Linked DNA regions of Homo sapiens. The protein of the gene in region 3 purifies or fractionates together with the protein of the main gene of each other region. This does not show direct contact. Each region holds a gene or a part of one and is shown on either strand. Other genes may lie near its edges. The genes, in order: ANKMY2, HEATR6, CTSC, QSER1 and RAB11FIP1.

The links.
Region 1: the proteins of CTSC (region 3) and ANKMY2 fractionate together in Homo sapiens (co-fractionation; one large-scale study listed by BioGRID). This does not show direct contact.
Region 2: the proteins of CTSC (region 3) and HEATR6 fractionate together in Homo sapiens (co-fractionation; one large-scale study listed by BioGRID). This does not show direct contact.
Region 4: the proteins of CTSC (region 3) and QSER1 fractionate together in Homo sapiens (co-fractionation; one large-scale study listed by BioGRID). This does not show direct contact.
Region 5: the proteins of CTSC (region 3) and RAB11FIP1 fractionate together in Homo sapiens (co-fractionation; one large-scale study listed by BioGRID). This does not show direct contact.

The regions. Positions count from the first base shown.
Region 1 is NC_000007.14:16,607,525-16,611,422, forward strand, and holds part of ANKMY2 (ankyrin repeat and MYND domain-containing protein 2), read right to left. Parts: intron 3,240-3,898; coding exon 3,025-3,239; intron 2,242-3,024; coding exon 2,106-2,241; intron 1-2,105. UniProt on the Homo sapiens protein: May be involved in the trafficking of signaling proteins to the cilia.
Region 2 is NC_000017.11:60,043,598-60,048,406, forward strand, and holds part of HEATR6 (HEAT repeat-containing protein 6), read right to left. Parts: intron 4,792-4,809; coding exon 4,667-4,791; intron 3,809-4,666; coding exon 3,712-3,808; intron 2,633-3,711; coding exon 2,428-2,632; intron 538-2,427; coding exon 1-537. UniProt on the Homo sapiens protein: Amplification-dependent oncogene.
Region 3 is NC_000011.10:88,306,566-88,311,374, forward strand, and holds part of CTSC (dipeptidyl peptidase 1 isoform a preproprotein), read right to left. Parts: intron 2,754-4,809; coding exon 2,598-2,753; intron 1-2,597. UniProt on the Homo sapiens protein: Thiol protease. Has dipeptidylpeptidase activity. Active against a broad range of dipeptide substrates composed of both polar and hydrophobic amino acids. Proline cannot occupy the P1 position and arginine cannot occupy the P2 position of the substrate.
Region 4 is NC_000011.10:32,930,257-32,935,065, reverse strand, and holds part of QSER1 (glutamine and serine-rich protein 1), read right to left. Parts: intron 3,324-4,809; coding exon 1-3,323. UniProt on the Homo sapiens protein: Plays an essential role in the protection and maintenance of transcriptional and developmental programs.
Region 5 is NC_000008.11:37,871,267-37,876,075, forward strand, and holds part of RAB11FIP1 (rab11 family-interacting protein 1), read right to left. Parts: intron 4,057-4,809; coding exon 3,249-4,056; intron 1,914-3,248; coding exon 12-1,913; coding exon of another isoform or gene 8-11; intron 1-7. UniProt on the Homo sapiens protein: A Rab11 effector protein involved in the endosomal recycling process. Also involved in controlling membrane trafficking along the phagocytic pathway and in phagocytosis. Interaction with RAB14 may function in the process of neurite formation.

The DNA.
Region 1 (3,898 bases), on a different chromosome or scaffold from region 3:
GCCACTGCACTCCAGCCTGGGTAACAAAACAAGACCCCCCTCAATAAATAAATAAAAATAATAATAATTATACTCTATAAACTCTAATTACATTATTCTATTATATGGAGCTAGGATAACTTGTTGACCACAATATTGACCTGCTTTTTTTTTTTTTTTTTTTTTTTAAAGAACTCTGGGTTGCTGTTTTAGTTTTTCTGTTTTTTCCCAGGAAGGTAAAAGGTCAGCAACCATTTGTGAGTGCTGGAAATCCCACATAACAGGTACTGCTAGTTGCTTCTCTGATATCAATTCTCCCAGCTTCCTCAGTAACAGAAGTGTAATTTTGTTCAGAGGAGGAGTGTTTAGAAAAGCCAAAAAAAAAAATTTTCCTGGACTCCTGTGTAGCTAAGGAAAGTCATGTGACACAGGCAGAGGGCTTCTGGGAGAGCTTATGTTTTCCAGATATAGACCCCTTTGCTCTTCCTGCCTGCCTGGGATAGGAATGTGAGCTGGAGGAGGAACATCAAATGCCTCGTAACCATGAGATCATAAGTATGCATATGAGAACCTACACAGCTAAGGAATATTGGAAGGGAAAGATGAGAAAGTGTTTGGGTCCCCAAACTATTTTTAAGTCACTATGCCAGACCTAGTCTGCCTACCTTTGGGCATCTATGTATATGTGAATACATAAACCCTCATCTATTTAATTCATGGTTGGTTGGGCTTTGATATGTGCTGCCAAGACACATTTGTAATTGACAAATCATAATTTGCTAACTTTATTCTTCCAAAAGCATAAACACTAAATAGCCAACTATATTAAAAAGTATGAGTAAAGAAACTCTTGAAAATAGGGGGAGCACACATGAACAAATTAATGCATGAGCTTTATGAGATGGTCTTTTCTGCTCAGGTCTTTCTTGTTTATTTTATGGCTCAGACTAGGTGAATTCTTAATGTACAAAGGAGCATCTGGAGCCCACTTGAAGCCCTGATGTTCCACACTGAGAATGACATAACAACCCAGAGAGAAGGCACAGAGAAGGGAACCAGATTTGCCAGAGGGAGGGAGGAAGCCATGGATGGGACTGGTCTTAGGATCAATTTCTTGCCTGATAGACAAAAGCTGATCAAGTTTTTGATTGAAACGTATAAAAGCATGAATGGGTATAGATAGGGTAAACAAAAACCTATTCAAAATAGAAAAGGTGGCTGGGCGCAGTGGGTCATGCCTGTAATCCCAGCACTTTGGGAAGCCGAGGTGGGTAGATCACCTGAGTCAGGAGTTCGAGACCAACCTGGTCAACATGGTGAAATCCCATCTCTACTAAAAATACAAAAATTAGCTGGGCGTGGTGGCGCGCACCTATAGTCCCAGCCACTCAGGAGGCTGAAGCAGGAGAATCGCTTGAACCTGGGAAATGGAGGTTGCAGTGAGCTGAGATTGTGCCACTGCACTCCAGCCTAGGCGACAGAAACAGACTCTGTCGCAAAATAGAAAAGGCCAAATAAATTAAAATATATGACAAATGAATAGTAAGTCATTTAAATAACAGATAAAGTTAACAAAATACACTTATATAGTGGGTAAGTATAAATAGGTTGTAAGTATGGACATTTTCTAATCAGAGGCATTAAGGTGGATTATAGGAAGCTGAGGCATACTTTGAGATTGTTACCAGGAACCACAATGAGCCTTCCCATGGCTTATCCCACTACATCCCCACTGCCTGGACACTATCCCCCTAGGTGATCAATTCATACTTGCATCTAGTGTATGACTTTGTGCTGATAATTCATATAGCTACAAGTGTACATGTGTGTACCTATATTACATAGTGGATGTACTTAAAATGTAAGTTTCTACCCTAACCATCTACATTTCAACATAGCGACGTCCTGTTTATGAAACTATGAACCATAATAAGGTAAGAAGAGGATCGTGAGATGGGAAATAAATAAACAGGAACAGGTTTGGCAGGCAAACCTATCTCCACCTTTGTTCCTAAAAATATTCTGAAATAATAAAAATAAATATTAAAGAGAACTTGCCTTTAACAATACAATAGGTGGGAATTAGGTTTTACTGATAGAGTCAACTTAGGTAAGAGGAGCCTTACAATTTCAACAGGAGCAATGCTTCGAACCAGCTGCTGGAGGAGTGTAGCTTCACAGTAAGGAAATTTTCTGATACTTTCTCTAATGATCTTTTCTTGATACACTGGAAAGCCATCAGAAGCTCGGCCTTTTAACAAGCTGAAAGATATTTTTTAAAGCGTAATTGGAGTTGAATCACTAAGCATTCTCTCCTAGTTGAACCCAACAGTTTTTAGTAGTTTCTTCTGTTACTTATGATTTTCTTTGTCTCTTCAAATCATGATGACGGGCTCAGTTCAAATTGCTGTTCAACCTATATGTTAGGCTAGGCCTTATAAGGTTTTCCAGCCCATTAAATGAATATGCAAAGGTGACTACCACCATAAAACACACTAAACACTGTTATCAGATTAGCTAGTTACTTATTACCATGTCAGTTATTTGTACTAAGAATGAAAACTCTCATAGAGCCACACCCTTCAGACTTAGTTCCCTTTTCTAGGTAAGGATGCAAGAGAATTTGATCTCTGGTGGTCAGAGAAGCAGCATAACACACAGCTCTCCAAGATACAGTAACAGAGACACCCTGGATGCCATTACAAACCTAGGGCTGCGACCTAGGGCATAAAATATTCTCAAATTTGGACTTGGGCCACTTTCTCGCGGTGTGATCTTACACATGTTATTTAACCTCTCCAAACCTCAGATTCCTCATCTGTAAATTGCTGGTAACAACAAAAACATCACAGTAAAGGATACAGAACTGAATAATCACTCAATATAAGTATAATATTATTCTCTGTTTGTCAAAGACTAAATGTGAGTCCAACAACAGCAATTGCTGCCAAAATGTTTAATTTTGAAACACATAATAATGAGGCTTCATATTAAAAAAAATATTCACTTGAGTGTATTTTATAAACGACATAGTAAAAAGAGTACCTTTTGATCAAGGTGTCCAGTTTATTCTCTCCATCTTTTAAGAAGTTAATGCATTTCTGAAAGATACAGCTTATGTAATGCATCTTCATAGCCAATACTTCATTCATGTCTCTTTGCTTCATACATTTCTCACAAATCAAATCCATCACTCTGTAGCATTTATTCAGGGCTGCTTCTTCTGTCAGCAGAGGATTCTCATTTACAAGCATCACGATCTAGAGGAAATCCCAGTGTACTCAGGTATTAAAGGAGACACTTGTTCATGTACAAATTAGGTAGTCCATTTAGTTGATTTCAAAAGATTACCAAAGAAAGCCTTCCTTAGGATCATGAAGTTATTATGTTATTTGTTAGAATGCAAATTACCCAGAACTTATAGAACTAATATAGAAAGACCCTGAAATAGTGGAATCTCTTGAACTCTGTATATCAAAGTTATAATGTGATCTTCCATCTACCTACACCACAGTGCCAGTATGCCATTCAAGAGCACATGATTTTACAGTCTCTGTTAAATTCACTTTTACTAAAGATAAACATGACAAATTTGTACATTTTACATAAAGAATCAAATCATTGAGCAATAACCACTTTTAGTTAACATTACTCAGCTCTAGAATTTCATGGCTAGGAGAACTACAATTCTCATTAATTCTTATTAAGCACAAGAAAATGAGATTTTTTCAGAATGAAGTCTAAAAATGAAATATGCTTTACTTTCCAATTAACTATATTTCTCTATGGAAATTTTCCTGAAGATGCTTCCAATCATCTACAGTAATGAGAACAGGTCAAAGAGGAAGCCATAAATAACTTTAAAGGGGAAATATTAGAATGATCAAATCTTACACGTTATGAGTCCCACATTTCCTAT
Region 2 (4,809 bases), on a different chromosome or scaffold from region 3:
ATCCAGATGAGTCAAAACAAACGGCCAGGATCTCTTCTAAAAAGCCCATGATGGCCCTTCTGGCTGTGTCTCCAGTTGGTGCCTGGATGCTGCCCATGTGTTTAAGGGCCATTCTGACCATCTGGTCTCTTTCCTGTGGGCTGTGGGGTGCTCCAGTGTCATCTCCCTCTGCTCCTGATTTTAAAAACTGTAGAATATAGGACTGGACCATATTCCCACTCAGTTCAAGGGTTTCTTTCATACAAGGGAGGTCCGAGGCACTGGCCAAGCTCAAGAGGTGAATCAGTGCCTGGCAGATTTGGGTCCGTAGGCTGACACAGTACTTGAATTCCAAAAAGTCTATGGTGTCTTCACTCTTCTGTAAAGCGGTGACCAATGCATTCCAGATCCGAGCATACTGGTCAACAGACCCGTACTGCTCTCTCTTCCCCGGGACGGAAAGGGCAGCTGCAGATCTGATGCGCACTTTGAAGTTCTTGCATGATGTCACGACCGATGTCAGGGCATTGTAGGCCTGGGAGGTCCATGGGGCTGTCCCTAGAAAGAATCCACAGTCACTAAAACAAATGCAGGCTTAGAACTAGGTGGGGTGAGAGGGAGAGGGGTGGAAGGAAGCTTAAACACTAGTGCTCAAGACACTCATTTTATGTGTTCACTTCATTCTCACAATCATCCTGTAAGACAAGGGTGGTGACTGACTGTAGGATCCTAGGTAAGTGGCCAGGTGCCAATCCCCAAACCTCCCTCTTTCCCTACCTCAGCCTGCCACACGCTTAGAGCCTCTGCTACCCAATATAAAGCCTTTGGTGACTCAGAAAAAGGCTTCTTCTCTGGGAGGATTCTGTCCCGTTGGGGTATGGCTTTGTGGGCAGAGCGTGGACTGAACTGCAACCCCACCTATCCTCTCAGCTGGGCACTTCTGAGCTGTGTGCAAGCCACACACTGCATGCTCACCTGCAACAGCATCCAGACACTGCTCTGGCCATAGCCAGTCATGCATTTTATTGCAAAGAAAAAGAAAACTTACAATTTCAAGAATAAGATGCCCAGATTTCTATCTTTTCTCCACACCTGTAGGCCCTAGGAAATCAGCCTGCTTTCCTCCTTACCAGAGCTACTGCTACCCACTCCACTTTGGGGTGTCCTTACTCAAGATGGGTGACAGAGTAGAATGCAGCTTCTCTTAACTCTCCCAGCCCTTCCTGGCTTCTCTGTTGCCTCTGAAGACCGGCAAGCAGGCCCTTTCCATTTGGTGGATGCCAGTGCCATTGACAATGGGCCACTGCTAGAGCTATGAGACACTCACAATCCGACCCGTCAGAGTCCTTTATCAGTTTCTAGCTCCCTTTTCTTATGTGGCTCTTGATAGCTCTGCTACTGGATGCTTTCTAGTTCTCAAACTTCCTGCCTCTTTGGAGCTTCCCTTTCCCTCCAAGTCATGCAGGTAAACTTCTCTCTCTAGTAGGCTGAGGGCAAGGGCCATACAGGAAGGCTGGTAGGAGCCAACCACCACTGAGGTGCCCTGGTTTCAAGGACTTCTTGGCTCTCCAGAAGGCGGATAACCACCTCAATGGGCTCCAACCCAAAAGGTCACCCTTAGGTGACTTCCTCAATGGAAGAAGCCGGGAAGCTACCTTACATACTCCCAGCTGACTGGTCTGCCTGGACGCTCTGGGCAATAAAGGGGAGCAGAGCCAGACTCCCCTCACTTGATGTGTGCTCTCCTCTCCAGGAACACATCCTTAGGTCTCAGATCTGAGAGAGAGAGATGCAATAAAGCGAACGCTGGCATTCAAAGTGAGCGAGGTTTGGAGGCTCCGATCCATACACCTAAGCAGCTACTGGTCCTGAATGACATATCAAGGTGCATGGCATGCCACTACTTAGAGACAGATGCCCTCCTTACATTTATTAATGGCATCCACTTCTGTACACAGCTCATAGGGGATTTCCAGTTTATATTCCCTCTCATTCCAGTTTTTTTCCTTCCTGTTTTCTTGACCATTAAAGTAATATATGCTTATTGTAGACAACTGAGAAAATGAAAACAGAAAAAATCCTACCCATCCAGAGGCAATCACTGTTAATAATTAGTCCAATTTCCTTTCAGTCTTTTTTCTACCCATCTATTGAGATCATTCTGTAGAAATTATTTAATACCTGCTTTCATTTGTTTAACATCAGAAGTATTTTTCCAGATTATCAAATTCTTGTAAGTAATTTTAAATGGCAACAAAATATCCCATTATATATCCCATTGTATAGGTAATGATGTATTTCAATGTCCCCCTAAACTTGTCTTCAGTATGTCTCCATTTTTTCCTAATACTATGACAAATAACATGTGACAAACATCTTTAACAACAACGTAGATTGGTGTGTGTCCCAAGAGGCTTTCCACCAGGGAGTGAAGGGAAACTTTCTTACCTAAAGGAAGGGCAGGATTTTTAAATACATTTCCCATTGCATAACAAGCATTCCATCGGACTTTCATGGCAGCTTCTGTTAGAACAGTAGAAATTAGGGCCTGGATAGACTCCTCAATGATTTCTGCAAATGTGGGTTTTTCTATATGAGAGGGTTGCAGAAAATGAAGCAAATTTCCAAGGGCCCGGACTGCATTGCTTTTTACCTAGAAAAAATGTAAATGCTTTAGAAATCTGTTTGGCCAAAGAGATGTTTCCAAAAGTCTAATTTCAGCTTTAAAAAAACCCAGGAGGTCTTCAACTTCTTAAAGCAAGTCCTTGGAACTCACAAGGTCTGCTCTGGTTAACATCCTGAGCCATCAGAAATGTGAGGTTCTACAGAACTCCTCTCTCTGATTATTTATTTATTTATTTTATTTAGTGCTAGACAGGACCTCAGAGAGGTCCATCTTCCTTGTTTTACTGAGATGGAGTATAAGGACCGGGAACAACAGGACAAGGCTGATTGATAGCAAGACAATGAGGAGAAGCTAGGTTCCATAATTCCAGTCCAATACTTTTCTACTAGACTAGAGTCTCAACCTCTGCAGCCCATCAGAATCATTTGGGGAGGTTTCTCCTTTTGTTTTAAAACCGATTCGGAGGCCCTAACCTCAGAATTTCTGATTGAATTACTCTGAGGTAGGGCTTCCTGGGTGATTACCAGATTTTCAGAAGTAGTATTAAAGTGAGCACATGGTATGGGTCAGGTACTGTGCTAGGTGCTTTAACATAAGGCATCTTCATATCCAGTGAGGTATATAACTTCCATGTTACATGTGAGGAGCTGACCTTCAGAGAAGTTATGTAATATACCAAACTTACCCAGTTACTAAAGGGCGAGCCAGGGCTTGAATCCATGTATGTCTGACCTAAAGCCCAGACATGTGCTTTTTAAACTTATTAGTTTAACAGGTAATATTCAAAGCCAAGAGCTACTCATCTTTCTGACTTGTCAATTTTTTTTTTTTGGAAAATAAAAAAAAGTTAATTTTAAAAGGAATCTGAATATGTCATGTAGTATTACAATGGGCACTGATATTTTTCAGGAGGCAGGAGACAGTAAAGAAACCATACACGTGTGGAATGGGCCATTTATACCCTGAGCACACCCTCAGTCTCTTTTGAACAGGAGTACATTTGGTGGGACAGTCTGAGGAACATCAAGCCACACTGAACTACCACACTGCAGCTACAATACATTAACTATCTGTTTGGGAGATACTGGGTTTTGTTGTGAGTCTACCTTGTCTTTATCCTTGGATGCTTCTATAGCTGATCGTAACATTTTCAAGAGCAGGAGACCAGAGAACTCTTCCTGGAAACTTGGGTCTGGTGTTTCCCTGTTCCACCCAAAGCAGACAACACATGTTAAAAGGTAAATACACTTAAATATATACATATAGAAATATATTCAATTAGTATAAGCCTAAAAGTTTAGGAAAACAGTTTAACAAATCTGCTTAGATTATATCAAGAAACTTACATTATATATCTTTTGACCCAATAGTTCCCCACATAGGAATGTCTCAAAAAAAAAAAAATCTCAAAATGCAGATTTCATGCACAAAAATATTCCCTGAATATAAAAGCCTACAAGCCTAAAGACTAAAACAAATGTTCAGTAATAGAAAAATGGTTAATCATCACACAGTGATAATTATGTAATCATAAATAAGGATTTCTAACAAGTCAATAATAGAATGCTTACACATTTTACATGTTGCTTATACGCTGAAGTGACAAAAAGCAGGACACGTGCACATGAATAACCAGCTACCTCTGGGGAGGGGAACTAAGGTGTCAGGGTAGAAGAAAGGCTTCACACTGAATGCTGCTTTGTACTATCTGGATTTTTTTTAGCCTGTGAATATACTACTTTAAGAAATTTTTTTAAATGCATTTTAAAAGTACAGTAACCATTACTAAGGTTTTGCTTTTATGTTTTCTATAATGTAGACATATTACTTATATCGGCATACAGTATTTTTAATACATATATATCTTAATGCATTCCTAATATATATTAAGAACAGTTTATTAATTTTATTTTCTGAAGGAATATCAAACAAAAAAAGCAGGAAGACTGACTGCATAATATGCGGGAACTACTGCTGATTCTTTCATGGTAGAGATCGAGGACATTCTCTTGGGCCCTCAATCTCAGAAGTCAGCTGGGGAAAGCAAGCTCAGTCACCTACATGTTGACAATCAGAGTGTCTGTCAGGTTGCCCAGGGACCAGGCTGCTTTGGCTCGAACATTCAGAGACTTGTCTTCAAGTGACATCAATATTGCATTTGCTGCGTCTGCAACAAATATGACATCCTGTAACACAAAACAAAA
Region 3 (4,809 bases):
GGAAGAGGTATTTGAACCCAGAGGAGAACAGGAACAAGTGGACTCCAGGGGAAGAACACCTTTCCCCTCCATCCTCCTTCTCTGGCTGAGAGTCGTCTCGCGGAGAGCCACCTCCACCACTCAATAAAACCTTGTGCTCATCCTTCCAGCCCACGTGTGATCCAATTCTTCTGGTACACTGAGCAAGAACTTAGGCTGTCACATTGGACCCCTGCCCTTGCAATAAGGCATGGGGTCTAATGACCTGATTAACACAAGCCATCTGCAGACGGCTAAGCTGAAAGAGCACACTGTAACACATGCCCACTTGGGCTTCAGGAGTCTCCAACATCCACTCCTAGACACTGCTGTGGGGCCAGAGCCCAAAAGCACCCCCCATGGCCTCTGCACCTGCCCCTCTGCATGCTCCCCCTAGGGGTTTGGGTGGTAGGGCAAGGGCAACCAAAGGTGTGAGAAGCCACACCTCTGTCATATGCCTGCGAGGGAGATAAGGGAACTCTCACATTTCAAAGTGTTTTAGTTGAGTAATTATTAATCTATTAGTAGTTTATTCAAATAATACAAATTTGAGCCATGAACTCTACAGATATTAGAGGATTAAACATTGTATTCTCTGAGAATTTGAGGCTATTTCAATGTATTAAGGAAAAATAACCTACCTATATAATTTTTCAAATTCTGCTAGCTCCCCATTGCTTTCCAATTCCTTACCCCTTAGTCACATGATCCTAAAGCAAAGTATGGCATTACAGGACTTATCCGTGGCCATTTAACAAATGTTAAGGAACTATATTAGATAGATGTAGATCCTAAGCTAGATCCAGCTATACTTTCAGAAAAATAATTTTTTTTTAAATTATCTAAATTTCTGACTAGACAGATTCAAAGTATTATGATATAATTTCCCAAACTAAGAAATATACCATGGGGCTTATGGGTAAAGATGAAAAATGCCACCTCTGGTTGAGAGTAATAGAGCTATACTGATAACTTTTTTTTTTTTTTTTTTTTTTTTGCTGGACATCAAAGCATAGAGAGGATTTTGAGATTTTTTTTTAGGTGGCAAATTTTACAGTTACTGTAGGCAAGTTGAGGGCTATTTGAGGCAAAGGGAACAGCACAAATGAAGATGAAAAATGAAAGTTTTCATTCATTGTGTGTCATATCGTTTGAAAGCAGAGCAAGGTGATAAATATAGTTATGGTCATAATTAGATGGGTTTGGATACCAGGCTAAATGTATCCATTAGGTAGTGGGCAGTAACACAGTCTCGTAATCACCCAACGGGTTCTCCTTCCTCACGGCCTACACAGAACTGATTATCAAGACAGGGAAATTGCAATAGAAAATGAGTTTAATTCACGCAGAGCCGGCTGTATGGGAAACTGGAGTTTTATTATTACTCAAATCAGTCTCCCAGAACTTGGTATAAGAGGATGAAACTAGAAGCATTTCATAAAACAGCTAAGAATGGGAACTGGGAGAGGTAGCGACGAAAGAGATGGCAGGCATGAAACCGCCTTTGCAAAAATTATACCAGTGAGAAAACTATGAGAGTGAAAGAGAGCTAAGCTAACCCATCCCCCATCTTGCCTTCCACTTAAATATTCCTGGGCTATTGGGCCAAGCTAACTTTGGAAGTCATTTCGGCTACAGTTTAAATGACAATGGGCCTTGCCCTGAAACCCAACCACTTTTGTGAAGCTAATGGAGGCAGTCAGGCTGTGGGGAGAAGAGGAACCTGAGTCCAGCTAAGGCGCAGACTTGAGAGATTGTCAGCCGTTATTCCAGAGGTTATAAGACATGCAACTCCATCAATTACTCCAGCAAATAACATCATTATTGTAGAATCTAAGACTGGCTTTTTGAAATATCTTTTCAGGGAAATTTTATATTTATTTTATTTATTATTTTATTTTATTTTATTTTATCTTACCTTATCTTATTTTATTTTATTTTATTTTTGCATGTCTGACACCCGTGGTTCTACCTGGACCCAGCAACCCCACTCCTATGGCCCCACCTAGAAGCAATTCAGCCCACAGGAGGACAGCTTCAACTCCCTGTGATTTCACCCACCCCAACCAATCAGCAGCAAGCATCTGTTACCTGGCCACCCCCACCCCTTCCCCCAAGCTGCCTTTGAAAAACCCCTACCTATGAGCTTTGGACAAGATAATTTGAATATGAACTCCATCCCCCACGTGGCATGGCCAGCCTAGTGTCTCTTAAGCTCTTTCTCTACTATATTGCCATGGTTTTTCTTTATGCAGCAGGCAGGAAGAACCCCTCAGGTGGTTACCGGCAGGAGGCTAATCCATAGCATGGGGGAAACAGGACAAAGCTGCATGCCAGAGTGTAGAAAATGGAAAGGGGGCAATGGAAACAACAGACATGTGAAAGAAAAACTCATAAATAGGACTTGGAGAGTGACAGAATATGTATCAATAGGAGATAAAGATCGTTAACAGATCACATAAAAAGTTACAACTGGGATGACCAATAAAATGGCGAGCAACACTGGTAGGACTGCTTAGGAGGGAGGATGGTATTCAGCATTCATATTTTTATTAATGATAAAATGTGTGCTTGATTACCTTGGGATTTTTCGACTGTGGCCACCACTTCTCCTAATCATATCTCCCAGGGTAAGAGTCTCATATTCCATGTATGTAGTTGCAGTCCAAGACTTCTGAATGGCATTGATAGCTTTCACAAAGTTGTGATCATACTTGTAGAGCCTATTAGAATACCTGTCCCCAAAAATGAGATAATTTCAGATATAGTCTTTACTGATGTAAATAGAGTAATTAAAACAGGCATTCACACTCTGTGCCTAAGTGGAAAGTGGTACAATCTTTCAGGAAGGTAATTGGCAATATGTATCAATAGCCTAGAACAGCCTGGCATGTCTTCTCTAAAAATAAAAGTTCAAGTTAACTAAGATGCATGTATAAGGATTTTCCATGAAGTACTTTTAAACTACTAATAGATTGTAAATAACCGAAATAAATATTCTAAGATAAGGGACTGATTAATGATGTTTCATTTTCTATATATTCATTTAAAATGTCTAGAAAGTTATTTAATGATATGGAAGAGTGCTCACAACTATATTATATTAAATATGAGAAGATATCAAAGTTTATACATAATCATAATCAATTTATCAACTTTTGCACAGTAATATATGTATATTATATGTATATTAACGTATATGTATAATACATACATATATATGTATGCGCGCACACACACACACACACACACACACACACACACACTATAAATGCATTTTTAAAATGCCAAACATGGTTACCTCTGAATGGTGGCATGAGATGCCAAGCTTTCCCCTACTCCCTACAGTTTCTACAGTGTACCTTTATAACCTTTTTAATAAGAAAAAAGAGAAAAGCAAAACCTGTATGCAACATATATACAAAATGCAAGCATTATAACCATATGATACTAAAAGAAATTATACTTTATGGACATTCGGTTTATACTTGTTACTCAGAATTTAGTTCTTGAACCAATATCAGTAGCAACACCCAGAAGTTTATTAGAAATGCATACTGTAAGTACTCAGCCCAGATCACCTGAATCAGAATCTCCTTTTTTTTTTTTTTTTTAAACAAGATCCCCAAGTGATTCACAATAACATTAAAATCTGAGCCACATTGGTTTACCTTGTGCCAAATGCTTGGATATATATGTAAATAGATTCAACACACAAAGAGCATATTTACAAAGTAGAAAAATTCAGGAAGCTGATTATTCACTTAATTAAAACATTTATCATACCTGTGTGCTAGATGCTAGGAATTATAGAACTCACCATATTATTACTATTAAAAAAGAGTCTGTGGTTTCAGAGTGACTCACTATCTAAGACTTCCATAAACATTCAACTATGCAAAACAAGATATAATTAACCTGAGGAACATTTTAGGCATACTGCAAACTTTTCTTTCCCTTATAAATCATGTGTGTAGAGAGAGAATTTTGATATGGTCTAAAAACCTAAGAGCACTGAAAATAATCAGAAAAACGTGCAACCAGGTTGATAATGTTTTAATGTTTTTGTCGAAGTTCTTTCCCACTTGTTGCAAAGTGTGAAAAACCCAGAGACGTACCCTTATCAAGCAGATTATAAAACTGTATCATATGTATGACTACACTAACACAATAACAAAAACAAGTTATAGTTGTTTCATTGTTTCTTTAGGCAAAAGAATATATTTTAAATTGTAAATAAAATACTTTTGAGATATTTTCCCACAACGCCAGTCAATATTTCATTGACTGTAGATATTTGAGGAGCAGTAGCCTGCTGTTTCGCTTGCTTTATCATAACATCTAGCAAAACCTCGTGTGTTGACATGTGCATTAAAATAATGACAAGATAGCATCCTACGTCTTAAATACTATTATTTTTGGTGTTTAAGATCCAACGAGATTAAAAATAATGTATCTTACTATGGGATAACAGATCATTAAGAGCTGAAAGAGACCTCAAAGGCAATTCAGTCCCACATGCTCACTTCACAGGTGAGGCAATGTAGGTTCTGAGCACTCCGGTTGGGAGCTTCTTCACTAAATGAGAGAATGTTTGAAATATCAAATAGAGTACAATAGTACATAGCATATCCTAAATGATAGGGTACAAAGTAAACAAGTTAAAAGTAAATGTGTAGCTCTAGGATCAAGCCAAACAAAGCTATTTAAAACCTAAACTTAAAATGAAGGGGATGAATTAGTCTAGATCTTGCCCAGCACCTTTGCAGACAATTCATCCTCCTTTAAATC
Region 4 (4,809 bases), about 55 Mb from region 3:
TTCCTCCACCTCTTTGATCTTCTGTCTCATTTTTTCTTGATGCTGATAACCATCATGGCAGCTTTCTGAGGAAGGAGGAGTATACGGTAAGTAAATATCTGTTCCCCTTGGATTCTGGCGTTTGCCTTGGGCAGGTCTTTTCAGCTGTTTCTGATTACTGTTGTCTTCCTCTTTAACTTGCCCTTTTCCTTTAGCTCTTTTCTTTTGAAGGTTAAAATGCATTAAATCTTGGTTTTCTTCTTCAATCTTGACACTGACTGCATCCCCAGATTGGGCCATGGCCAACAGTGCAAGTGCACTCCTAGCTGGGTTCATTGACACACCACTGTCGTCACCCCCTAAGGTAAATTCACTCTCTGATGTAGCATTCTCTCCACTTATACTTCTACTACTAGAAACAAACTCTTGGTTTCTGTTATTATTTAATGTACTATCAACAGGAGCTTCACTGTCTTCTTCAGATTCAAGATTGGTAGCAGACTGTTTCTTGAATGGGCCAGAACTTTGCTCCTGGACTTCATGACTTGGTCCAACCACTGCTGAAGTTACTTTAGTTGGTATATTTTGACCAGGTGTTTCAATGTGCTGTTGATCAAGAGTCATTTTTGACTGAAGGGCAGGTACTGGTGAAAGGTTCACAGTAACCTGATTTCCATTTAAGGAAGTATCATTTATATTCTGTGGCTTTCCTACTGTAGCTGTCATAGAGTTAAAATCTGAAGTCACATGCCTGACATCTAATGACTGCTGAAAATGAGATTTAGAATCACCATCTTCAACAGCCTGCATGGTTTCATTTGAAGTTGACTTGGAAAAATCAGTAGGTGTAACTCCACAAGCTGCTGCTGTAGCTGCTAAGATATCATCTACATTTGATAAAATATTTCTTTCATCACTAAGAAGCACTGCCTCTGGGAAACACATCGATCCAAGAGAAACAAACTGATTCTTTGAATCATGTTGATTTGTTTCACTAAAATGGCCCTTTGTTGTTAGATGTTGTTGTAATGGTTTTGAAGACTCAGAGAGGTCCATTTTCATAACTTCAGAATTTTGAGGATGGAGTTGCTGCTGAGAATGATCACCATTGCTTTGAATAACATGACCTTCCATCTGAAGGAAGGGATGTACTATTTGTTGAGGGCTTTGAACACGCTGTGCTTGTAAAGATGCCTTTACTTGACCTAAACCTGCCTGCAGTATTGACTGCTGAAGAATTTGTAAATCACAGGCAGAATCTAAAAGGACCTGTGTATTAGGAAGAGATGCCTGATGGCCATGCCCTAAAGCATGATTTGGAATTTGAATCTGAGATGAAGCATTAATTATTTGATCGTGCTGTTCCTGGACCTTGGACTCATGCACCTTAAGTATGAGAGGATGTTGCTGCTTTAAGTCTTTAGTATTCAACCTTATTTGTGGAGTCTGTATTAAATTAGTTGAGTTCTTAAGATCAAGGGTAGCTGCATTATTGACTTGGCCAATTTGTTGGTTAAGTTGTGTCACTGAACCAACAACACTTTCTTCTTTTTTTGATGCTTGCAGAGCAACCCCAATAACTTGATCTTCAAGACGGGAATTACTTCTGATTACACTCTGAGAATATCTGTCATCTGCCTTTGACACCTTATAAGTTGATTCTTGAGCATTAATTTCTCCATCAGATAGCCTTTGGGTTGATGACTCAAGAGATGCTTGTGGCTGCAACACCTGTAACTCTTGCATTGGAAAACCATCTTCTTGCTTTGAAGATGGATACACATCTGAGTCAAGCTTTCTTTCAGCATAAGACTTTGGGTCAGGGGAAGTTATGTTATTTTGTAATGTCTGACAATGAGTAGAGGATGCAAAAGATGATGACTGGACAGCAGGCAAAAACTTCTGGGACTGGGGAGATGATGACTCTTGAGTCTGAACATTTTGGGAAGAATGCATAGAAATATAATTCTGGGTCGGGCTAGAGTCTGGCAAATTCTGAGCCCGAGAGGCAGAAGAATAAGAAAGAGAAGGGGCTGTTAATGTTAGGGACTCCCCTGAAGCATAGCTTTCTGAAAGACTAACAACTGACAAAACTTGTGATTGAGATGAATAGCTAACCTGTGTCTGGCTAACTGGTGATAAACCCTGAGAGTGACCAGATGAGTAACTTTGAGACTGACTTACTGAAGACAGATCTCTTGTTTGAGCAGGGTAATTCTCATTTGTAACTGAAGACAATACCTCTTGCTGATTAGATGAATAATTAAGCGTCTGATTTTCAGGAGTTACAGTCTGAGATGACCCAGAAAAAGTCAATGTTTTATACAAGGGTGGCAATTTCTCAACCTTGCTGGACCTATAAACCTGTGAATGAACAATAGATGGCACATTATGTGGCTGTACTAAACCGTAATTTTGGGACTGACTAACTGATAAAAGGCTTGGTAGCTGCGCTGTAGAATAAATTTGTGCTTGGCCCGATATTACAGAACTCTGATTATGTAAAGGTTTGGAATAGCTTAGTGTTTGCACAGGAGGAATTATACTTTGAGGTTTAGGGGTCTTGGTTGATGTCAGTGGTTGTTCTGTAGAACAGCTTTTTATTTTTGTAGTAGAAGGAGGATACCCTGATGATGGAATCGCAGATGAGTAAGACTGAGCAAGTTCCACTGAGACCTGGGAGGTCTTCTGTTGTAATCCTCCGTTGCTCACCTGAGTGGAATCTCCAATTGGGCTACAGGATAAAGATGACTGCCTGGTTGTTTCCTGAAAATTAACTACACTTGAATTTGATAGATAACTATGTAAGGAGTGCTGTGAACCAGTCAGTTGTGCCTGAATTGACTGGGTACCTGAAGGCCGCTGATGGTGTTTAATAACACTACATTCTCGAAGAAGAGCTCTTTCAATGGAAGCAGTAGAACTAGTAAAGAGAGTTGAACTGTAGGCTTGAGGAGTCTGCTGGGATCCCCCAAGTGCTGAAGGCAACAAACTAAATTGAGGTTGTAAAAGATGGGGTGCAGACTCTTGAGCTGAGCGGTATGTTGAAGACTGAGGTGGTATGCTGTTACTTAATACAGAACTGCCCAGGCGCTCAAATGCCAAAGCAGTTGGAACAGTTCCCTGGGAAGTCTTGATTTGTAGCAAAGGGTCATGATGACTTAAAATTCCATTTGATGTAGTGTTAAAAGTTGAATCCTGAAGCACCAAAGGTGAAGTGGTAGCAAAGTTTCTATTGCTGAAGGTGGTGGGATGCTGATAAGCAGAGAGAGATGGTGGAAGTGTTCCAGTGCTTGGCAAAGGTCCAGTAGCAAACAGCTCAGTTGCTGCTGAGGAATGCATGCCTATGAAGAAAAGGCACAAAGATTTTTATGTAATTATGGCACAATTACTTTATGTTTTCATAGTAATGACTTACATAACCCTCAACTCATCAAAATGTCTTAAGACTGAAAAACCTGACCAGTTAGTTCTGCATGTAAATTTTGAAAATTACATTTCAAAATAGCTAGCTTCTTTCTTTCTTTTCTTTTTTTTTTAAGAGACAGGGTCTTACTCTGTTGCCCAGGCTAGAGTGCAGTCTTGCGATCATAGCTCACTGCAGCCGCAGTGTCCCAAGTAGCTGAGACTACAGGCGCATACTCCCAAACCTGGCTAATTTTTAAATTTTTGTAGAGATGGGGTCTTGCAATGTTGCTCAGGCTATCTTGAACTCCTGGGCTCAAGTGATCCTCCTATCTCGGTCTACCAAAGTGATGGGATTATAGGTGCAAGCCACCACGCCTGGATTAGCTAGTTTTCATAGAGTAAAAATGAAGTTACAATGATATCAGCAATTCATATCTGTAATTGTTATATAATTTATATATAGTTTGATAAGGTCATAGGAAAATGAAGAAATCAGTAAAAATGTACATATCTCTAGTGATTAATTTATCCCAAAGTACCAACACAAAATACCAATGGACAAACCAAAATGTACATAACATTAAAATGGAAAAAAAAAAGCTAAATTGCCTACATCTAACATGATAAATAAATATAAAAAAACAGTGAACTGCAGTTTCTTTTACCAAAATATATTCACTTTAAAAATCTCTTGCATTTCAAGCTTTCACTTCCTATGAACAACTTCCCAATCATAATAGATGCATGTTTATCATGAAAAGTTGATCAGAAATTAACAAAGTACTGTCAGAAAGAGACTGTTAACATTTCAGGACAGCATTTTAGCCACATATAGCAAAAGTAAAAATGGGTTTACCCTTGTGATCTGAAAGTTCTATAGAAATTTATTCTAAAGAAATGAGTGCATACAAAAATATTTGTACCAGATATTCATTATAGTTATTGTTTACAGTAAGTAGAAACAACAAAAAGTCCATAAACAAGGGATCAATCAAATAATTATGGCATACCATAATAATACTATTGCCATAAACATTAAGGTGGATACATATGTTTTGACATAGAAGGATATCCAATAAAAATAACAAACTGTTAATTCCTCTTTGAAAAGTTAGGAACTATCACTTTCCACTTTATATACCTTTTTACTATTTAAATGTTTTATGTGAACCTCCATTAAATTTTTTTTTCATTTTTGGAAAAATGGGGAAAACAATTCTCTGGCTCTTTGAAAAATATTTTCCTACTTTCCATTAAATATCCAAAAAGAATTATTACTACAAAGATAGAAAATATCTAGTGGCACTTGAAAGAATAAATAACACTTAGAAATGTTTAAAATAATACACTGAACTAGAATAGACTTTTGAGATAACATAGTTCAACTCCTTTGTTCTAGCAATTAGGAAACTGGGGTTGACA
Region 5 (4,809 bases), on a different chromosome or scaffold from region 3:
CCATCTCTCACCTGTGCTTGGCTGACCCAGTTCCAGCGCCTGGCTGAGCTGAGACTGGATGTGTCTCCGAGGGTGAGACCCAGGCCTGGAGGAGTGGCTTCCTCTTGCCAAAATTTTCAACTCTACCAGCGGAGCCCTCTGCTGTGGCTTTTTTTTGAGATTCTGCTGTGCTGGTGTGGTGAGTGTCAGAATGTGCAGAGCTGGGGAAAGAGTGTGTGACAGGAAAGATCTCAGAAGGGGAGGGGCTGGGTACAGGATTGTCCAGGGATGTGCCAGGAGGCGGGCTTGGACTCCCATTTCCCATCGGTTTTTCTTCCTCACCACCACTGGGGCCTGGCAGCTGTTTATCCAAGCTTGAGCTCTTGCCAAGATGTGGTTTGTGAATTCCGAACTCTGTGGTCTGCTCTGAAGGAGCTGTCACAGATGCCTGGGGTGCTTGCAGCCTGAAATCACACAGGCCCTCCCCCAGTACCAACCTATCTGCCTCGCCACTGGGCCCCTTTCCCCTCTCAGGACAGGGGACTACCAAGCCCAAGGACAAAGCTCCTATGTCCAGAGTTGACGACTTTGCTGTCTCTCCATCATCTTCAACCTGATCTCCGTCATCTTCAACCTGATCTATTCTTTCATCATCCGATGCGACTTCAGGAATGGAAGGAAGGCTTAAGTTCAGATCGGCCATGATTGGAGATTTAAAATCTGAGACCAACTGAAGGTCACTCAAGGGGTCAGACAATAAACCTTCGTGGTCACTGGCTTTGCTCTGATACTGAGTCACAAGGGCATCCTCTCCCTCCATCCTAAAGAGTGGAGTGTCTTTCGCTGAGCTTGCTTCACTCATGGGGACTTCGGAGAAACTCTCCTCCTGGGAGGGGAGGAGGAGGTGATCCGCTGGGGAGGCTGGCGCACCACACGTCGCTGGCCCAGGTGTGGTCACCGATTCCCTTTCTGAGTCCTCTGCGTGGGGAGACTCAGGAGGCTCTCCGTCAGACGCGTTTCCAGCAACAGACCATGCAGGGTTCAGCTCCTGGGGACAACTGCTGTGTCCTTCCACCAGCAAGGCAGCCCCCGCCACTGCCTCTTCCGTGAAGAGCTGCTCAGAAAATGACACACGCTTCTTGGTTTTCTTCTGGTCCTTGCGGAGGTTCAGACCCATCTCTTCCAGCTTCCGCATCATGGAATCAATGGAAGGGACTGATGCTCCCATGGGAAGAGGGGGCGCCACTTCTTCAGCTGCATCCCTGGCTTTGCTCTCCACAAGAGACCCAGCCTGACTCTCCAAGTCTCTGTCTCCTCCTGCTGCAAGCTCCCCAACAGGGCTCACAGCTCCATCACTGCTGAGTGAAAGGGCAAACGGTACTTCCTGGGCTTCTCCAGATGATGGGCTGTAGTCTTGTTTTTTGCAGGGGAATCTCGGAAGTTCTTCCTCTTGTCGCCCTGTTTCAGGCTGCTCTGGGAGAGACTCCTCCAACTCAAGGCTGCTGGTGTTCTTCTCTGTGCCTGTCTCACGGGTCCTGCCCATCAGAGAATCTTCTGTCCCTTTATTTGCTGGAAAGGATGGCTGTTTGAAAAGTGATCCCAGGGCAGAAGAACCAGAATTTGGAACCGGTGTTAAACTCTCAGTTTGCAACTCTGCCTTAGGGAGCAAGGGTGGTCCTTCAGACTTGGCCTGGCCCCTGTCTACGAGAGGCCAGCTTTCAATTGGAGTGGATGTGGAAATGGGAGCTGCTATGGGAGATGAGAGAGAGGAGAAGACAGAAGGACTCTCAGAGGACTGTGTGTCTGCACCATGTCCCAATTCAGAGGGGACAGATGCCTGGCCAGAGCTAGAAGGAAGAGGAGGAAGAGAGGAAGGGGAGTCAGTAGGGGAAGGAAGCCTGGCTGTGGGTTGCGCCTCTGGAGACACTTCCAGTCTGCAAAAAGGACAAAATAAAATCTGCAGGTCAGTGCAGATGCATCACGAGAGACAAAGAAAATACACAAAAACAAGTCATTCACCAGGGGAGAACGTCTTTACACGTGGGGCAGTACCTTAAGAAGTTAAAAAAGGAACGCTAGCCGGGCGCGGTGGCTCACGCCTGTAATCCCAGCACTGTGGGAGGCCGAGGCAGGCGGATCACCTGAAGTCAGGAGTTCAAGACCAGCCCAGCCAACATGGTGAAACCTCATCTCTACTGAAAAATGCAAAAATTAGCCGGGTGTGGTGGTGTGCACCTGTAGTCCCAGCTACTCGGGAGGCTGAGGCAGGAGAACTGCTTGAACCTGGGAGGTGGAGGTTGCAGTGAGTTGAGATCGTGCCACTGCACTCCAGCCTGGGCGATAGAGGGAGACTGTCTCAAAAAAAAAAAGGAACACTAACACTTAACATACACAACAGACACTTTTATAACCAAGCAGATCCGTCACACAAAAGTCTGTTGCAATAGAAATGAAAAGATCCCGGTAAAGCAATAGCCTCTGGTTTCTTGTGGTGATTAACACAAGGCCCGAGCATTTGATTATTACAGGACAAAATGCACCTAAAAGGTTTAAAGTGGTTAAAGATGTAACACAAAGCAACAGGCACAGATAAGTTTAAGAGGAACAGTGTGTATGTGTGTGTATATGTGTGTGTGTGTGTGTGTGCATGTCAAAGTAAGCAGAATCTCTAAAAAAAAAAATCTCACTCCCCAGACCGCAGAAATATTGTCAGTATGAATGTGATCACACAGAAAAGCAGAAGTCCCCAAGGCCAGTCCCCAAGGCTTATGCCGGCTCTTACAACAAGGGGCAGAGTGGACACAAAGAACCGTCACTGTCACTTGAGAGAGGACCGAGGGTCTCTCATACCAGAAACCAATGCCAAAAGGCAAGGAGGCAGGATAACATCTGGCTCAAAGGGAAATGTGAGATAAGAACTTCGAAAACACAGGTTCTGCATACACTACAACCCAAACTCAGTATTCCCAACTTGCAACACCCACAATCTGCTACAAACCACTGCGTTCCACTGAGATCTGATAAGCTGACTGAAAGGACAGACCATGCCTGCTGGGCAGTAGCTCTGAGCTGGGAAACATCACTGCAATTTATACAGGGCAGGCCAGGCTGGCAGTAGGGACTGGTTAAAAAAATAATTTAGACCAGCAAACCTTTGGCATATATGGGTACTATGATATCATGGGACCCACAAGAGCTGGTCTAACGTAAGCCTGAAAACCACCAATGGCAAGGCAGAAATGCCCTGCACGAGAAGAGCCAAAACTCACCGGGGCTTGACAGCTCTGGTCTGGGGAGCCCTCGGAGAGGAAATTGGAGGTCTCGGTTCAGACTTGGACTCTGGCTCAGCTTCTGGTTCTGTGATCTGCACATCTTCAAAGAGGTTCAGGGAGCTGCCCTGTCTGGAGACAACAGCTGCAGTATCTTTCTCAGATCTTCTCACAAGGTCTTCAGCAGGCCCCGATGCGTCCTCCCCCGGCTTAACCCCCATCAGCATGCCTTCCTTCTCCCTCCCTGGGACCGTGAGAGGGTTTTCACCTTCACTGCCCTTAGCCACATCCTTCTTCCCCGTCATCAGAGACAGCAAAGAGGACCTCCTGCTCTCTGGCTTCTTGCTCTCCTTAGCTTCTTTTGTGGCCTCTGAGTTTGCGGGGGCCATGTTTTCCCTGAGGTCCCCACTGACCAGTGGGGCAGGTCGGTAGGACGGCAGGGTCATAGACTTCAAGGAGTCCTTGGTGGAAGATTCGGAGAGCTGCCTGTCAGAAGACAGCCCACCTCCTTCAGCAGGCTCCTTCCAAGACCCAGCCGCCAGGTTCTCTGTAGAAGAGAACAAATGCTTCTTTCTGAAGCCCTTGGGGGATGGGGAGGAGGACGGGCTGCTATCCTTGATCTCACCCTTGGCTTCTGGCTGCTCCAGGTAAACATGGTTCCCATTGATGCAGACATTAGAGCGGGAAAGGACATCATTCTTAGACCGAAGGCCACCAAGAAAGGAAAGTCCTTCCTTCTTGGGAAGGGTAAAGTTGACCTGGTTCAGTTGCTTAAGATCCGTACTCGCTGTTCTCTTGTGAGACATGACTTTGGGAAGAAAAAGAACAGAAAGGGGATAAGATGTTAAACGGGTGGTTTGCAGTGTAGGGGCATCTGTCAACGTCTGGATACATTTCTGGTTGCCACAACTTGGAGGGGGTGTGCTGCTATTCGTATCCAGCAGGTAGAGGACAAGGATGATACTGAACATCTTACAACGTATAGCACAGCCCCCCACGACAAAGGCCTGTCTAGTCTAAACTGTCCACAGTGCTGAGGTTGAGAAACTCTGGGTTAAACCAATGAAAAGGGCAGCACTCTTGGTAGAGTAGCAGAATCCGGCCAATGGGAGGGATTTAGACATTGAAATTGAAGTTCAAAATACATAATTAACTCAGAGCTAAAGGAAGCAGATTCCTTGGCTTCTGATAAGGCTATATCCCACGAGGGTTGAGCACATCACAGGAACTCAATAACTACCTGATGAATTAATGAAATATCAGAATTACCATAAGGTTCCATGGTTTTACCCTTAAAAAAAAGAAAAAAAAAACTTGGAAGACACTCATTCTGTTAGCTCTAAAAGCTTGTACTAGTGGACATCATTTATAGAGCCAGGAACTCTGGAAAAGGAATTTATACATTCTTAGAAACCAGAGGGTATAATCCCAGCACTTTGGGAGGCCAAGGCAGGTGGATCACTTGAGGTCAGGAGTTCAAAACCAGCCTGGTCAACATGGTGAAACCCCAACTCTACTAAAAATACAAAAATTCACCGGGTGTGGTGGCACGGACCTGGAA